3 linked regions of the Homo sapiens genome follow. The protein of the gene in region 3 purifies or fractionates together with the protein of the main gene of each other region. This does not show direct contact. Each region holds a gene or a part of one and is shown on either strand. Other genes may lie near its edges.

Evidence for each region. The genes of interacting proteins can lie anywhere in the genome.
Region 1: the proteins of SLITRK3 (region 3) and RHBDF2 purify together in Homo sapiens (affinity purification with mass spectrometry; one large-scale study listed by BioGRID and IntAct). This does not show direct contact.
Region 2: the proteins of SLITRK3 (region 3) and KCNT2 purify together in Homo sapiens (affinity purification with mass spectrometry; one large-scale study listed by BioGRID and IntAct). This does not show direct contact.

What each region holds. Positions count from the first base shown.
Region 1 is NC_000017.11:76,473,924-76,478,515, forward strand, and holds part of RHBDF2 (inactive rhomboid protein 2), read right to left. Parts: intron 3,863-4,592; coding exon 3,734-3,862; intron 3,376-3,733; coding exon 3,257-3,375; intron 3,102-3,256; coding exon 2,907-3,101; intron 1,219-2,906; coding exon 1,107-1,218; intron 882-1,106; coding exon 807-881; coding exon of another isoform or gene 737-806; intron 612-736; coding exon 450-611; intron 220-449; coding exon 110-219; intron 1-109. UniProt on the Homo sapiens protein: Regulates ADAM17 protease, a sheddase of the epidermal growth factor (EGF) receptor ligands and TNF, thereby plays a role in sleep, cell survival, proliferation, migration and inflammation. Does not exhibit any protease activity on its own.
Region 2 is NC_000001.11:196,339,441-196,344,032, reverse strand, and holds part of KCNT2 (potassium channel subfamily T member 2), read left to right. Parts: intron 1-927; exon of another isoform or gene 928-977; intron 978-1,804; coding exon 1,805-1,954; intron 1,955-3,462; coding exon 3,463-3,692; intron 3,693-4,592. UniProt on the Homo sapiens protein: Sodium-activated and chloride-activated potassium channel. Produces rapidly activating outward rectifier K(+) currents. Contributes to regulate neuronal excitability.
Region 3 is NC_000003.12:165,186,385-165,192,070, reverse strand, and holds the end of SLITRK3 (SLIT and NTRK-like protein 3 precursor), read left to right. Parts: intron 1-1,219; 5' UTR 1,220-1,240; coding exon 1,241-4,174; 3' UTR 4,175-5,351; downstream 5,352-5,686. UniProt on the Homo sapiens protein: Suppresses neurite outgrowth.

The DNA.
Region 1 (4,592 bases), on a different chromosome or scaffold from region 3:
GGCTGTGGCACACCCAGCGTGCCACGTCCACCTACCCACGTCCCTGTGGGTGGCTCAGATGGCATGGCTATGCCTGACCCTGAGGCCCAGCAGAGGCTCCAGGCCCTACCTGGGGTCCTGGTGGCAGACAGCCCCCGAAGTCCGCTTCTGGCCCAGATCAGACTTGTCCATGGGGGGCCCAGTGTCATCCTGCCACTTGACAAAAGTGGCCAAAGTCTCCTGGAGGGCAGAAGAAGGCTGGTGGGTCATGTCGGGGCCAGGTCACCCCCACTGGAGTGGGCAAGGACAGAGGCTTTTCCCATCTCCCCAGGGCTCAGTCTCATCTATGGGGGTCTGGGAAAGGTGGGGCGGGGAGGAGGGAACGTGGTCACTGCCCTTGAAGGACAGGGCAAGTGGAGCTAGTCCGGGACCAGGGTCTGGCAGGGGTAGGAGGGAGGGCCTGCCCCCACCGAGCAGTCCTTCCGCTGGGTCTGGATGCATCCGGAGTGGTCATTCTGGACACAGCAGCCTGAGTCCCGCTCCAGGTCTCGCTCGCGCAGCACCAGCTGCTCGATCTGCCCGTCCTTCCGGATGCAGGGTGAGAACTTGGCCCCCAGGTGGATCAGGTCAATCTGGGGAAGGGAAAGGGAGGGGAGAGAGTGAGTTTGAGCCCCAGACCTGGGAGGGGTCCATCACTCCACCTCTGCCCCGCAGAGTCTCCCCTGATGAGGGGCCTGCGGGTGGGTGAGGAGCCCACCTGCCCAGCTGGGAGTGACAGGGCACAGGGACTCCTGGCTCAGATGATGTCCCCCAGCCTGGGCCCTCACCGAGCTGGGGCCAACCCAGAAGTTCTCCTGCTGGATGTACTTCACGCTCTCGTACACACCTTTGTTCCGCAGCACCTATCGTGGAGGTAGCACAGAGGAGGGCGTCAGAACAGTGTGGGCCCTGGGCATGGGGAGCTGGGGCAGCTGTCCCCAGGATAGAGCCTCCAGGAAGGGGCCAGGCTATGGTGAGCACCACCCTGCTGGGGCCAGATTGTTGCGGTGGGAGGGATTAGGTACCCACGACACTGAGGCCTCCTAGGAGAGGCTGGGACCCCCAGCATGGAGCCTGACCCGACTCACCAGCTGGGTGGTGACGTGCTGGGCAAAGCCCACGGGTGCGATGCCATACGTGCAAATCACCAGCAGCGTGATGATGACATGGACGAAGGTCAGCCAGTAGGTGAAGTAGGGCCTGTGCAGAGACACCTCGGGTCAGCTGAGCCGAGCTCCTATCCCAACCCCCAGTCCCGGCCACAGGGCCACCCTGGCCTGGTCACATGGCTCGCCTGGGCTCCCTGTTCTGCCCCGTCAACTCATCTCAAACCAGAGGAACTTTTAAGACGAGCCTCCAAGCATCTCTCTCCTAGCTTAAAACCTTTTGATAGCTTTCCACTGGCCTTGGGACAAATTCCAGAATCACCCCCTCTTGCTGGCTGCAAAGCTTTGCCTGACCGACCACCTCTCTGGCCTCTTTGCCTGCATTTCCTGGGATGTACTTTGCCCTTCCAGCCCCAGGGCCTTTGCACATGACATCACAGTTTGTCCTGACTGCACCCCTCCCCACCAGCTGTTCACTCTCCCTCTCTATCCTCCTCCGGGACACCCACCACACCTATCATTGCTTGTTCTTTTCTTTTCTTTTTTTTTTTTTGAGACAGAGTCTCGCTCTGTCACCTAGGCTGGAATGCAGTTGTGCGATCTCAGCTCACTGCAACCTTCGCCCCCAGGTTCAAGCGATTCTCCTGCCTCAGCCTCCCTCGTAGCTGGGATTACAAGCACCCACCATACCTGCCTAATTTTGTTTGTCTTTTTAGTAGAGACCAGTTTTCACTGTGTTGGCCAGGCTGGTCTCGAACTCCTGACCTCAGGTGATCTGCCCACCTAGGCCTCCCGAAGTGCTGGGATTACAGGTGTGAGCCACCGGGCCTGGCCATTGCTTGTTATTTTCTTTTTCTTTTCTTTCTTTTTTTTTTGAGATGGAATTTCGCTCTTGTTGCCCAGGCTGGAGTACAATGGTGCGATCCTGGCTCACTGCAACCTCTGCCTCCCAGGTTCAAGTGATTCTCCTGCCTCAAGCCTCCCGAGTAGCTGGGATTACAGGCATGCACCACCACGCCCGGCTAATTTTTTGTATTTTTAGTAGAGATGGGGTTTCACCATGTTGGCCAGGCTGGTCTTGAACTCCTGACCTCAGGTGATCCGCCTGCCTCGGCCTCAGAAAGTGCTGGAATTACAGGCGTGAGCCACCGCGCCCTGCCTGCTTGTTATTTTCTAATTTGGGCCCAGTGTTTATTGGGCTGCTGCAAATCAGATGCCCTGTTCTTCCCCAAGGGCTCTGCATAGCCTCTCCCAGAGTCCCCTCCCTCCCAGCCCCAGCTTCTTCTTTTAAAGTAGAGGTAGGGTCTCACTATGTTGCCCAGGCTGGTCTCAAACTCCTAGGCTCAAGCAATCCTTCTGACTCAGCCTCCCAAAGTGCTATAATTACAAGTGTGAGCCACGGCGCCCAGCCCTGGCCCCAGCTTCTAACTGTCCTCTGACCGACCCTGCCCTCCCTGCTCCACCCTCTGGGGGTTCCATTTTAGGGCCTGCAGGCAGTGACACTCAATGAACATTTGTTGACTGACTGCTGTCTGGGAGCAAGGCTGGGGACCAGGCTCAGAAAGCATGGGGTGGAAGAGAGGCAGCAAGCACCCCTGGCCCTTCCCAGGTCATGTGCACAACCCTTGGGACAGGGTGCGCCTTCGAGCTTGTCACTACACTCCTGATCCGCAGAAGATGCTCATGAAACACTTGCTGAATGAGTAAGGGGGCGCTTCAGGAGGGCCCAGAGGAATTTGGAACCTTCCAGGCTCTCCTGGGGGCTCCAGGGCGACACCTCACCGGTGGCTGTCGAAGCTCTCCAGCTGCCGCTGCACAGTGCTGCTGATGCTGCGGCGGTAGCTGCGGTTCAGCCAGTTGCCCACCACGCCGAGGCCGTAGTGCCGCTTCTTCCGATCAAAGGCAAAGTGCTTCACCTTGGAGGCGATGCGCTTGCCGCGCCGGGGCCCGGGGACTGGGGCTCGGCCATACTCCTTCCTGGTGGGGATGGTGGCTTTCAGCCTGAATCCCCCACCAAAATACTCCCAGACCCCACCAGGGTGCTCAGAAGGGGCTTGGGGGCCAGGGTGAGGTCTGGGGATGCCCCCAGGCTGGTGGCTGGCCTGGAGGAGGGACTCTGCCCCAGCACTCACAGAGGGATTTGCACCCCATCGGGGGAGACAGGGGAGGCTGAGTGTGGGATCCCTCGGAAGTAGCTGGCAGAGAGTGGGGGGGACTCAAAGACATCATCAGGCATGGAGCTCATTTCTTCCTGGGGTGGGGGACAAGAAAATACAGTGTAAGGAGTCTGTCCCAAACACTGCCCCCCGGAACCTCAATTCAAGGGCAGGACACAGCTGAACAGACGGGCTCTTCACAATGAATTGGGAAGCCACATGCCCGTCAGCCCCAATGGTGACTTTCCCGGGTGGCACTGTGCCCCACCGCAGGTCTTCACCCTACCCAACAGAAAGATGGGGGCCCAGCAGCTCCACATAGGACCATGCCACATCCCAGCAGTGGGCCTCTGGGTCCCTCAGGGGTTCCTGAATATGATCAATGCCAAGGTCACCTCACCCAGCTCCCAGGCCACCCCACCCAACTCCTGCTGTCCCACACCCCATGCTTGCCTTACTAAAAAAGGAGGAGTCAAACGTGTCTGCCCCATCGACCACATCCTCCTCCAGGAAGCTCGGGAAGGCAAAGCTGCGCTTGACCACCCGGCACCGCTGTCCGGTGGCATCCAGCACCGAGCGCCCCTGTGCACGGGCAGAGGCACAGCCATCAGGACCACAGCCTGGCCACCTAGGCCCCCAGCCCCAACACCGAAGGAATCATCAAGCCCATCCGCCTGCAGGCAGCGCCTTGGGAGGAGGGATCCTGCCCAAAGCGTGGAGATTCTGCAAGCTGAACGGGCAAGAGGAGCTCCTGAGACTGGAAGGCCAGGAAATGAGACACCAGCTTCCGTTGGCACACCACTCTTGGCACAGTTTGGAGTCACCTTTCCCTTGGTCCCTGCTGCCCCTCTGCCTTGGGCTGCTGGTACCCTAACACTCAAAGCAACCCACATTCTATACCCTCACTCCCGAGGCTTGGGCCATGTCTCCCTGTCCCTGTTTCTTGGCACGGAATACCAGGTCCCTGCCCACCTTTCTGACCCCATCTCCTGCCACAGCTCCTATAACCACCCTTCACTAAAACCACATCAAACCGCCTGCTGCCCCCTCAAAGCACTGTACTTCCTCTGGGCTCCTGGCCCTTGCATAGGCCATTCCCTCTGCTGAGAATGCTGTTCCCTTCCTTCCCTAGTGAACGTCTCCTTGTGTCTTCTGGGCTTAACTCAATGTCTTCCCTGATAACAGCCGCTCTCCTAAACTGACCACCCTGAATGGTGACCCTCACCCTGGGCTGCGAGCTCAGCCAGGATGGCGATGGCTCTGCACGCGGTGCCCAGCACGTAACAGGGACTTGGAAAACCCGGGTGGATGA
Region 2 (4,592 bases), on a different chromosome or scaffold from region 3:
CAAGGCGGGCGGATCGCCTGAGGTTGGGAGTTCAAGACCAGTCTGTCCAGCATGGTGAAACCCCATCTCTACTAAAAATACAAAAATTAGCTGGGCATGGTGGCAGGTGCCTGTAATCCCAGCTACTCGGGAAGGTTAGACAGGAGAATCGCTTGAACCCAGGAGGCAGAGGTTGCAGTGAGCTGAGATCGTGCCATTGCTGTCCAGCCTGGGCGACAAAGCAAGACTCCTTCTAAAAACACACAAATAAATAAAAATAAAAACAAAACAAAACAAAACAAAACACGATTATAGAGTTGGGACTCAGATTAGACAATCAAACTCCAGGGCCCAGGCTCTTAACTCTTTAAGCATACTTAAGAAGGAATGAGGCAGCAATGAGGCATACTTAGAAAATATAGATATTTTTTAAAGCTTATTGACAATTTGAAAATATTGACAAATGTTACCTTCCTAATAACCCTTTAGACAATACTCAGTTTAAAATGGCCTTTAAAGTCCTAAACATGGTTGTAATGTCTTGTGATCTGTTTTGATCCATTAAGAATTGATTAGAGATTATGATAAATTATTTTGATTTTTATATATTTATCATATTGCTTCTAAAATGTGCTTTTTTGTAGAGTTCATAAGTGTTATTCAGCAAAGGTAAATGAATTTATTATATAAAATGAGAAATAACCTATTTATATATCCATTATGAATTTCTCATAAATTGAATTTTTAATATATTTCTAAAGCCACTGAGTTAGGCGGGCAGCGCAGAACGTTCCAGAACAAAAGACATTGTACTTTTTGTGGTAAAATTATCTTCTTTATAAAAATACTTTTGTGGGATGTCTTTTGGAGATTTAGTCAGTTCAGGCTGTTATTACAAATTACCACAGCTTGGGCATTTTATAAACAACAGAAATTCATTTCTTACAGTTCTGAAGGCTGGAAATCCAAGATCTAGGTGCCAACATGATCCAGTGCTGGTGAGGGCCCCCTTCTGAGTTTTAAACTGCTGACTTGTATTTTCACATGGCGGGAAGATAGCTCTTTAGCATCTTTTTAAAAGGCACTAATTCCATTCCTGAGGGCTCCACTCTCATAACCTAATTGCCTCTCAAAGGCCACACTCCCAAATACCATCATAATGGGATTAGGATTCCAACATGAATTTTGTGGTTACAAGAATATTCAGTTAGTTGGAGAGATCCTTACATTTAAAATAAGAAAAGTGTCTTTTCGTGACTGCTATACAATTGGAAGAAAGTTATTGCTACGATATGAACAAAAACTAAAGGTATATTTTCTATAAAATCAAAGATAAATTGAGATAAATTTGTAATTTTAAGTATAAAGCAAAATAAAATACCTACAGCAGCCACGCAGGTATCATAGGTAAGATAACGTTGGCCATATTATGGAGACTGTACAACAAATTTTAGAAGATATACATGATAGGATATGTATATAAAGAGAGACTAAAATCCTGTATCTCATTGATTCATTGTGAGAGTAAAGCTTTTCATTAGCTGGATCTTGGAAAACTCCCACTTTCTACAAAACTGTCATTTCTCAAGCATATATATATATATACATATATATATATATATATATATATATAGTATTCAAAATTTTTTAGAAACTCTTGCATATAATGTCATCTTCAGACTTCAAAGCATTACTCAGATGCTCCTTTGGATTGTGCTTGCCAGTTCTTACACAGTTGAGAAACAGTTCTATAACAACTGTTTTTTAACCACATTCACTGTGTTTTCTTTTTGTGTGTGTGTATGTGTGTGTGCCTGTGTTGCAGAGAAGGCCAGCAATCGCCAGAACAATGGCAGAAGATGTACGGTAGATGCTCCGGGAATGAAGTCTACCACATTGTTTTGGAAGAAAGTACATTTTTTGCTGAATATGAAGGAAAGAGTTTTACATATGCCTCTTTCCATGCACACAAAAAGTATGTTTCTGCCTCAGAGAAAAATTAAAATATCAATCAGTCAAGCATATCATGTGAAAATAGTTTTCAAAAATAGAATGCATATTGTGTTCATGTGTTTAGGCATTCCGGAATTTTTGTCACAATATTCCCCAATGTTGAAACATTTGAACCCTGGTGTCTGTATGGTCTCTATAAGACAGTCAGGAGTAAATTATAATTTAGTAGGAATATTTCATTTAGCCACTTTTAAAGTCTTTTTAAAATATTTTAATCCATTAAGAATTTACATACATATGAAAATCTTCTTCACAGATCTGAATTTTAAGATGTTGATTAGGAACTAAAACAAAGTAACACTAATATTTCTAAAAACTGTACATTTGAAAAAAAAATCTCTGATGGTGGCCCTTGTTTTGGCCTGAGAAATAAGTTAAAAAATAAATAAAACTACCTTCCAATTCAAACATAGAACTTTTTTTTTCTTTTCCTTTTTGGAAAAAAAAAGGATTTACTTAAGAAGTAAAAATGTATGTATATAATGAAAATAACATATTATCTGTATTAAATGTTTTAATGTGACACATTTTGGAGGATTTACAATATACGTATATAGTCTACTAACTAATCTATTATGTAATGTACAGGAACCCCCAACTTATGATGCTTTGACTTACTATTTTTTTACCATGATGGTACAAAACAATAGCCATTCAGTAGAAACCATACTTCCAGTATCCATACAATCATTTTATTTTTCACTTTCAGTAGAATATTCAATAAATTACATAAGATATTTAACACTTTATTATAAAACAGGCTTGGTATTAGATGATTTTGCCCAACTGTAGGCAATGTAAGTGTTATGAGTATGTTTAAGGTTGGCTAGGTTAAAACTATGATATTTGTTAGGCTAGCTGTATTAAAAGCATTTTTTATTTAACAATATTTTCAACTTATGCTGGGTTTATCAGGACATAACTCTATTATAAGTCAAGGAGCTTCTGTATTCTACTTTACTTTTTTTTTCTGACTAAGTACATACCTATTTAAGACTATTTAAATATATATATTTTTTCTAAAATTTAAAGTAAACCAACTGTGATAAATTCAGGGACCCTGGTTCTCTTTCAGGTGACCATGGGTAAGTTTCTTTCCTTTGGCCAATAGTTTTAAGCTTTTTATTTATTTTTTTTAACCAAAGTAAGATATGCTGTTTATGTTTTTTGACCAAAGTAAAATTGTTGTAAAAATTCGCAAAATAATGTTACCCTTAGTGTATACATGCACTCATGTTTCTTATGTTCTTCCATTCATTTTCATTAAAATGTAAATTTATAGTGGTCATAATCAGCTAAATTGGTTTTACAACACACTAAGCACATAGTTTATTTTCCTGTAAAAATGAGGATCTTGAACTTCTAGGATCATTTCAAGCTTTAAAATGCTATTATTTAAAGCTTTTATTTTCCTCAGCCTTACAATAATTTACTAATTTTCTTACAAACTCTCTTTTTTTTTAAATTAAGGTTTGGCGTCTGCTTGATTGGTGTTAGGAGGGAGGATAATAAAAACATTTTGCTGAATCCAGGTCCTCGATACATTATGAATTCTACAGACATATGCTTTTATATTAATATTACCAAAGAAGAGAATTCAGCATTTAAAAACCAAGACCAGCAGAGAAAAAGCAATGTGTCCAGGTCGTTTTATCATGGACCTTCCAGATTACCTGTACATAGCATAATTGCCAGCATGGGTAAGTATAAACAAATTTGAAATATCATTAATTTATTTCTAAAATAAAAAATAATGATAAATACCAATGCATTTAAATTTTTATTAAAAGTTTAAAGAAAATTTCAAACATGCTGCATTTTACAAACTAGGTATGACTAGGTATACAGGACAACAGTTCTAAGTTGTGAATTTTTTAAAAAGTAAGATATTAGCCTACTGTGGTGGCATATGTCTATAATACTACCTATTCCAGAGGCTGAGGTGGAAGAATTGCTTGAGCCAGGAGTTTGAGAACAGCCTGGGCAACAGAAAAAGACTCTGTGTCCAAAAAAACCTCAATCTAAGATATTACAAAAACACAATCAACAATCATTTTATATTTCTCATTATATATAAAGCACCACACACTTTTATATTTCTTTTGTAAGTTCTCTTTGTAATTATCATCAAGAGAGGCTATTTCAAATATTCTTCATTTTCTCAAAATTCTCTTTCCATCTCTTACCTCACTCTCACCACTGAACTTGGCTTCTATGACACAGAAGAAGAAAGGTAAAAGAAAAAATACCTCCATGCAAATAAGAATTTCTTTACGGTTTGGCCTCCAAACCATCTACAAACCTACAAACATTTAGTATCTGTCACAAGGAAAATGTGTCATTTTTAACTAATACTGATACATTCATTTATTCCAGGAACCATGCCCTTGTTCCTCCTCAGAGACTTTACTCTTTAATCCCTCCTCATTACCTAACTTCATTTTCTATTCAGAATCACTGGCTGATCTCTCTCTCTCTGTGTCTCTGTCTCTCTCTCTCTCTCTCTCTCTCTCTCTCTCTGTGTGTGTGTGTGTCTCTTCATATCTCTGTGTGCACCATACACTTGTAATTTTGAACCTTCCATGATAACAACTTCAGAG
Region 3 (5,686 bases):
TTAAATTTTGATTGATATTTTAGTGACTCAGGAAGGACAGTGTAATAAAACTGCATTATTATCATTTATGTAAACATTTTCATATACTGATGTTATTAGGCAAGGAAAACGATGCATAGAGAAAGACTGTTATCAGAATAGTGCACTGCATTTGTTTCTTCTGATTGGAAAAGAATGATATCTTTTTTGAAATTTATTTCGTGTGATAGATCATTTATCAGCAGGTAAGAATAGAGGTTTCCACTCTCTCTTGACTTTAACTACCCACCTCCCCTCTAACCAGCCACCTGCTCTTCCAGCTTTTTACAGGGTTCCTCAGTTGATCTTGAAGGCGCAGATACACATTCCAAACTAAGTTTTGCAAATGTTTTAATTCAGACACTTTCAGACTCAGCATCCTCTAGCTGTCCCTATCTTTAGCTCTGACAATTGCACGGGCATGTTTTTTAGAAGGGCTAATCACTCCTACATGTTTTAAATAGTCAAATGATACAAATATATACAAATTATTTATTAAATTAAAGAAGATGACAATAATGTATTATTGGGCAAGAAGATGTGGACATATAGTGTACATACTGACTATACACTGTAATAAAGCATGTTATGATCATTTCATAAAAATAAATCTTAAGTTTTCCTGAGATGCTGATCATTTTACACATCTCAACATCTGATATTGAGCAATAGGCTCATACTTTATCACACTAATCAATATAATAATTTTGGAGTATATCATGTCTTTTTAATCATCAAAACCTATAACTCAAAGAACATATTTTTCCCATCAGAGTTCCAATCAGATTTATTATGAGTATCTTTGATGTCAACATGAGTTTTAACAGGCAAACAGGTGTGATGGCCACATTATTGCCATTATTACTGAATCTGCCTATGCCTAAAAGGAAGTACGATATACCAGTTCTGTTGTTTGTTATACAGAGGCAATGCAGGCTGCTTTTGTTCATGCAATATGCCGTTTACCAAGTATGGCTTGGTTCAGGAAAATGTCACTGCATGGTTCAATATTTCAGAGTCTCCTAAGTTTAAAATATAGGACACACTCTAAACATTAAGTATGTTGCTAGCTCATCTTGAGTGTCACTTCAACAATTGCTGAAGTTTTTATATAGCTCTTAAAATGCCCCACATGTAGGAGTCAATTAAAATAGTACATATGACTAAAAGCTAAAAATCTGCATTTTTATTTCTGTTGCAGTTTTGTAATCAACCACGAACGATGAAACCTTCCATAGCTGAGATGCTTCACAGAGGAAGGATGTTGTGGATAATTCTTCTAAGCACAATTGCTCTAGGATGGACTACCCCGATTCCCCTAATAGAGGACTCAGAGGAAATAGATGAGCCCTGTTTTGATCCATGCTACTGTGAAGTTAAAGAAAGCCTCTTTCATATACATTGTGACAGTAAAGGATTTACAAATATTAGTCAGATTACCGAGTTCTGGTCAAGACCTTTTAAACTGTATCTGCAGAGGAATTCTATGAGGAAATTATATACCAACAGTTTTCTTCATTTGAATAATGCTGTGTCTATTAATCTTGGGAACAATGCATTGCAGGACATTCAGACTGGAGCTTTCAATGGTCTTAAGATTTTAAAGAGACTATATCTACATGAAAACAAACTAGATGTCTTCAGAAATGACACCTTCCTTGGCTTGGAAAGTCTAGAATATCTGCAGGCAGATTACAATGTCATTAAACGTATTGAGAGTGGGGCATTTCGGAACCTAAGTAAATTGAGGGTTCTGATTTTAAATGATAATCTCATCCCCATGCTTCCAACCAATTTATTTAAGGCTGTCTCTTTAACCCATTTGGACCTACGTGGAAATAGGTTAAAGGTTCTTTTTTACCGAGGAATGCTAGATCACATTGGCAGAAGCCTGATGGAGCTCCAGCTGGAAGAAAACCCTTGGAACTGTACATGTGAAATTGTACAACTGAAGAGTTGGCTGGAACGCATTCCTTATACTGCCCTGGTGGGAGACATTACCTGTGAGACCCCTTTCCACTTCCATGGAAAGGACCTACGAGAAATCAGGAAGACAGAACTCTGTCCCTTGTTGTCTGACTCTGAGGTAGAGGCTAGTTTGGGAATTCCACATTCGTCATCAAGTAAGGAGAATGCATGGCCAACTAAGCCTTCCTCAATGCTATCCTCTGTTCATTTTACTGCTTCTTCTGTCGAATACAAGTCCTCAAATAAACAGCCTAAGCCCACCAAACAGCCTCGAACACCAAGGCCACCCTCCACCTCCCAAGCTTTATATCCTGGTCCAAACCAGCCTCCCATTGCTCCTTATCAGACCAGACCACCAATCCCCATTATATGCCCCACTGGGTGTACCTGTAATTTGCACATCAATGACCTTGGCTTGACTGTCAACTGCAAAGAGCGAGGATTTAATAACATTTCTGAACTTCTTCCAAGGCCCTTGAATGCCAAGAAACTGTATCTGAGTAGCAATCTGATTCAGAAAATATACCGTTCTGATTTTTGGAATTTTTCTTCCTTGGATCTCTTGCATCTGGGGAACAATCGTATTTCCTATGTCCAAGATGGGGCCTTTATCAACTTGCCCAACTTAAAGAGCCTCTTCCTTAATGGCAACGATATAGAGAAGCTGACACCAGGCATGTTCCGAGGCCTACAGAGTTTGCACTACTTGTACTTTGAGTTCAATGTCATCCGGGAAATCCAGCCTGCAGCCTTCAGCCTCATGCCCAACTTGAAGCTGCTATTCCTCAATAATAACTTACTGAGGACTCTGCCAACAGACGCCTTTGCTGGCACATCCCTGGCCCGGCTCAACCTGAGGAAGAACTACTTCCTCTATCTTCCCGTGGCTGGTGTCCTGGAACACTTGAATGCCATTGTCCAGATAGACCTCAATGAGAATCCTTGGGACTGCACCTGTGACCTGGTCCCCTTTAAACAGTGGATCGAAACCATCAGCTCAGTCAGTGTGGTTGGTGATGTGCTTTGCAGGAGCCCTGAGAACCTCACGCACCGTGATGTGCGCACTATTGAGCTGGAAGTTCTTTGCCCAGAGATGCTGCACGTTGCACCAGCTGGAGAATCCCCAGCCCAGCCTGGAGATTCTCACCTTATTGGGGCACCAACCAGTGCATCACCTTATGAGTTTTCTCCTCCTGGGGGCCCTGTGCCACTTTCTGTGTTAATTCTCAGCCTGCTGGTTCTGTTTTTCTCAGCAGTCTTTGTTGCTGCAGGCCTCTTTGCCTACGTGCTCCGAAGGCGTCGAAAGAAGCTGCCCTTCAGAAGCAAGCGGCAGGAAGGTGTGGACCTTACTGGCATCCAAATGCAATGCCACAGGCTGTTTGAGGATGGTGGAGGTGGTGGTGGCGGAAGTGGGGGTGGTGGTCGACCAACTCTTTCCTCTCCAGAGAAGGCCCCTCCCGTGGGTCATGTGTATGAGTACATCCCCCACCCGGTTACCCAAATGTGCAACAACCCCATCTACAAGCCTCGTGAGGAGGAGGAGGTGGCTGTTTCATCAGCCCAAGAAGCAGGGAGTGCAGAACGTGGGGGTCCAGGGACACAACCACCGGGAATGGGTGAGGCTCTCCTAGGAAGTGAGCAGTTTGCTGAGACACCCAAGGAGAACCATAGTAACTACCGGACCTTGCTGGAAAAAGAGAAGGAGTGGGCCCTAGCAGTGTCCAGCTCCCAGCTTAACACCATAGTGACGGTGAATCACCATCACCCTCACCACCCAGCAGTTGGTGGGGTTTCAGGAGTAGTTGGGGGAACTGGGGGAGACTTGGCAGGGTTCCGCCACCATGAGAAAAATGGTGGGGTGGTGCTGTTTCCTCCTGGGGGAGGCTGTGGTAGTGGCAGTATGCTACTAGATCGAGAGAGGCCACAGCCTGCCCCCTGCACAGTGGGATTTGTGGACTGTCTCTATGGAACAGTGCCCAAATTAAAGGAACTGCACGTGCACCCTCCTGGCATGCAATACCCAGACTTACAGCAGGATGCCAGGCTCAAAGAAACCCTTCTCTTCTCGGCTGGAAAGGGCTTCACAGACCACCAAACCCAAAAAAGTGATTACCTCGAGTTAAGGGCCAAACTTCAAACCAAGCCGGATTACCTCGAAGTCCTGGAGAAGACAACATACAGGTTCTAACAGAGAGAAGAAAATATATTAGTGCTTTTTTTTTTTCAAAAGAAAAGGAAAATAAAAGAAATATATCCCTTGCTCCCTTTACACTTGTCCCAGTAACTCCATCCTCACGATCTTTCCTACCCTGAACAAAACTAAAACCGCATGATAACTAGAGAATACAGATGTATGCTCTCCCCTCTCAGATGCGATTTGGAGGAAGGGCCATACTCAGATCATTAATCAATGAAAGTGCCTTCGCAGACTTTTGCCAGCAAATGTTATCATTATTTTTTTATACTGAAACTTGAGACTTTGACTGTGCCATGTATAAGATATACTGGGGATCATTGTATGGATCCTAATTAAGTAAAATTCAATGTGTCTTTTTATTTTCAGTAACTATTTTTTTTATAGTTGTAGTTTTGATTTAAAGGGGGGGAAACAAGTTGACATTTGTCATTTGTGGCTTTCTTTCTTATCATCATGGCACAGATTCTGTACATGTATTAACAATGCAGTTTGCTGCATGCCTGGAAACTGCAAGATGGGGAGGGAGGGGGCGGGTCTTGCTCGAATGTTCTCACTCACTATCTTGTCTCTCATACACATATCCATCTGCAGACCATGGTCCCTAAACCTGCAGTTTCTTCCTGCTGGTGCAGGTACACACACACACACACACACACACACACACACACACACACACTCCATACCATTTCCATTCAACTCAATCTGCTTAGTTCGGGTTTGATCCATTTTTCTCCTCTCCATAGTTCTACCACCCTTCACTGCTAGTGTACAGCTCACAGCATCTCTCCTACCACCCTGGGAAAAGTCACATTCTAGGCTGGATTCTACTGAAGTAGAGGCCTGGTGGTTTAACAGCCGAAGACACACGCCTAGGGATGAGCACCCTCTTTGTGACACTTCATCCTGATGCCAAGATTTTTTGGAGAACATCTGCACTTTCTTATATATATATATAATATTAAAAAAAGCAACTGGGTATATATCACTAACAGCTTTGTAGGAAGCACTTTTAATGTTTTCTCTCTCACACACAAAGATTCAAAAGAAATGTGCATATATTTATTCTGTAATTTCAGTGATTATAAATTGTAAAGGTAATGTTTAATCATTGTATAGTGATTATGCCTCTGGTATAGCTTTCCTAATAAAAAGTTTTTGAAAAACATAATACATTATATATAGAGGATACAAAGCTTGAACCTTAAACTCCAGCTATGCCATGCCTTTCGTGCTTCCATTTTAGAAATGATTTCTTTTACTTGTTACACAGAAAGTAATTTATTAACGGGTTTGATGCACTGTGATGTTGATAAATCTTATATCCCACCATCTCTAGTCCAAACCAGGATACAATTGAGACTTAAAATGTGACTTACGGTTTACTTTTTTTTCCTTGAATTATGAATTTCAGTCTTAGTAACCAGTGATGCACTGTTTCCCAGGCAAGATGCAAGGGGGAGAAAATAAAGTAACTAGATCGCTAAGAAGTACAGGATTAATTAG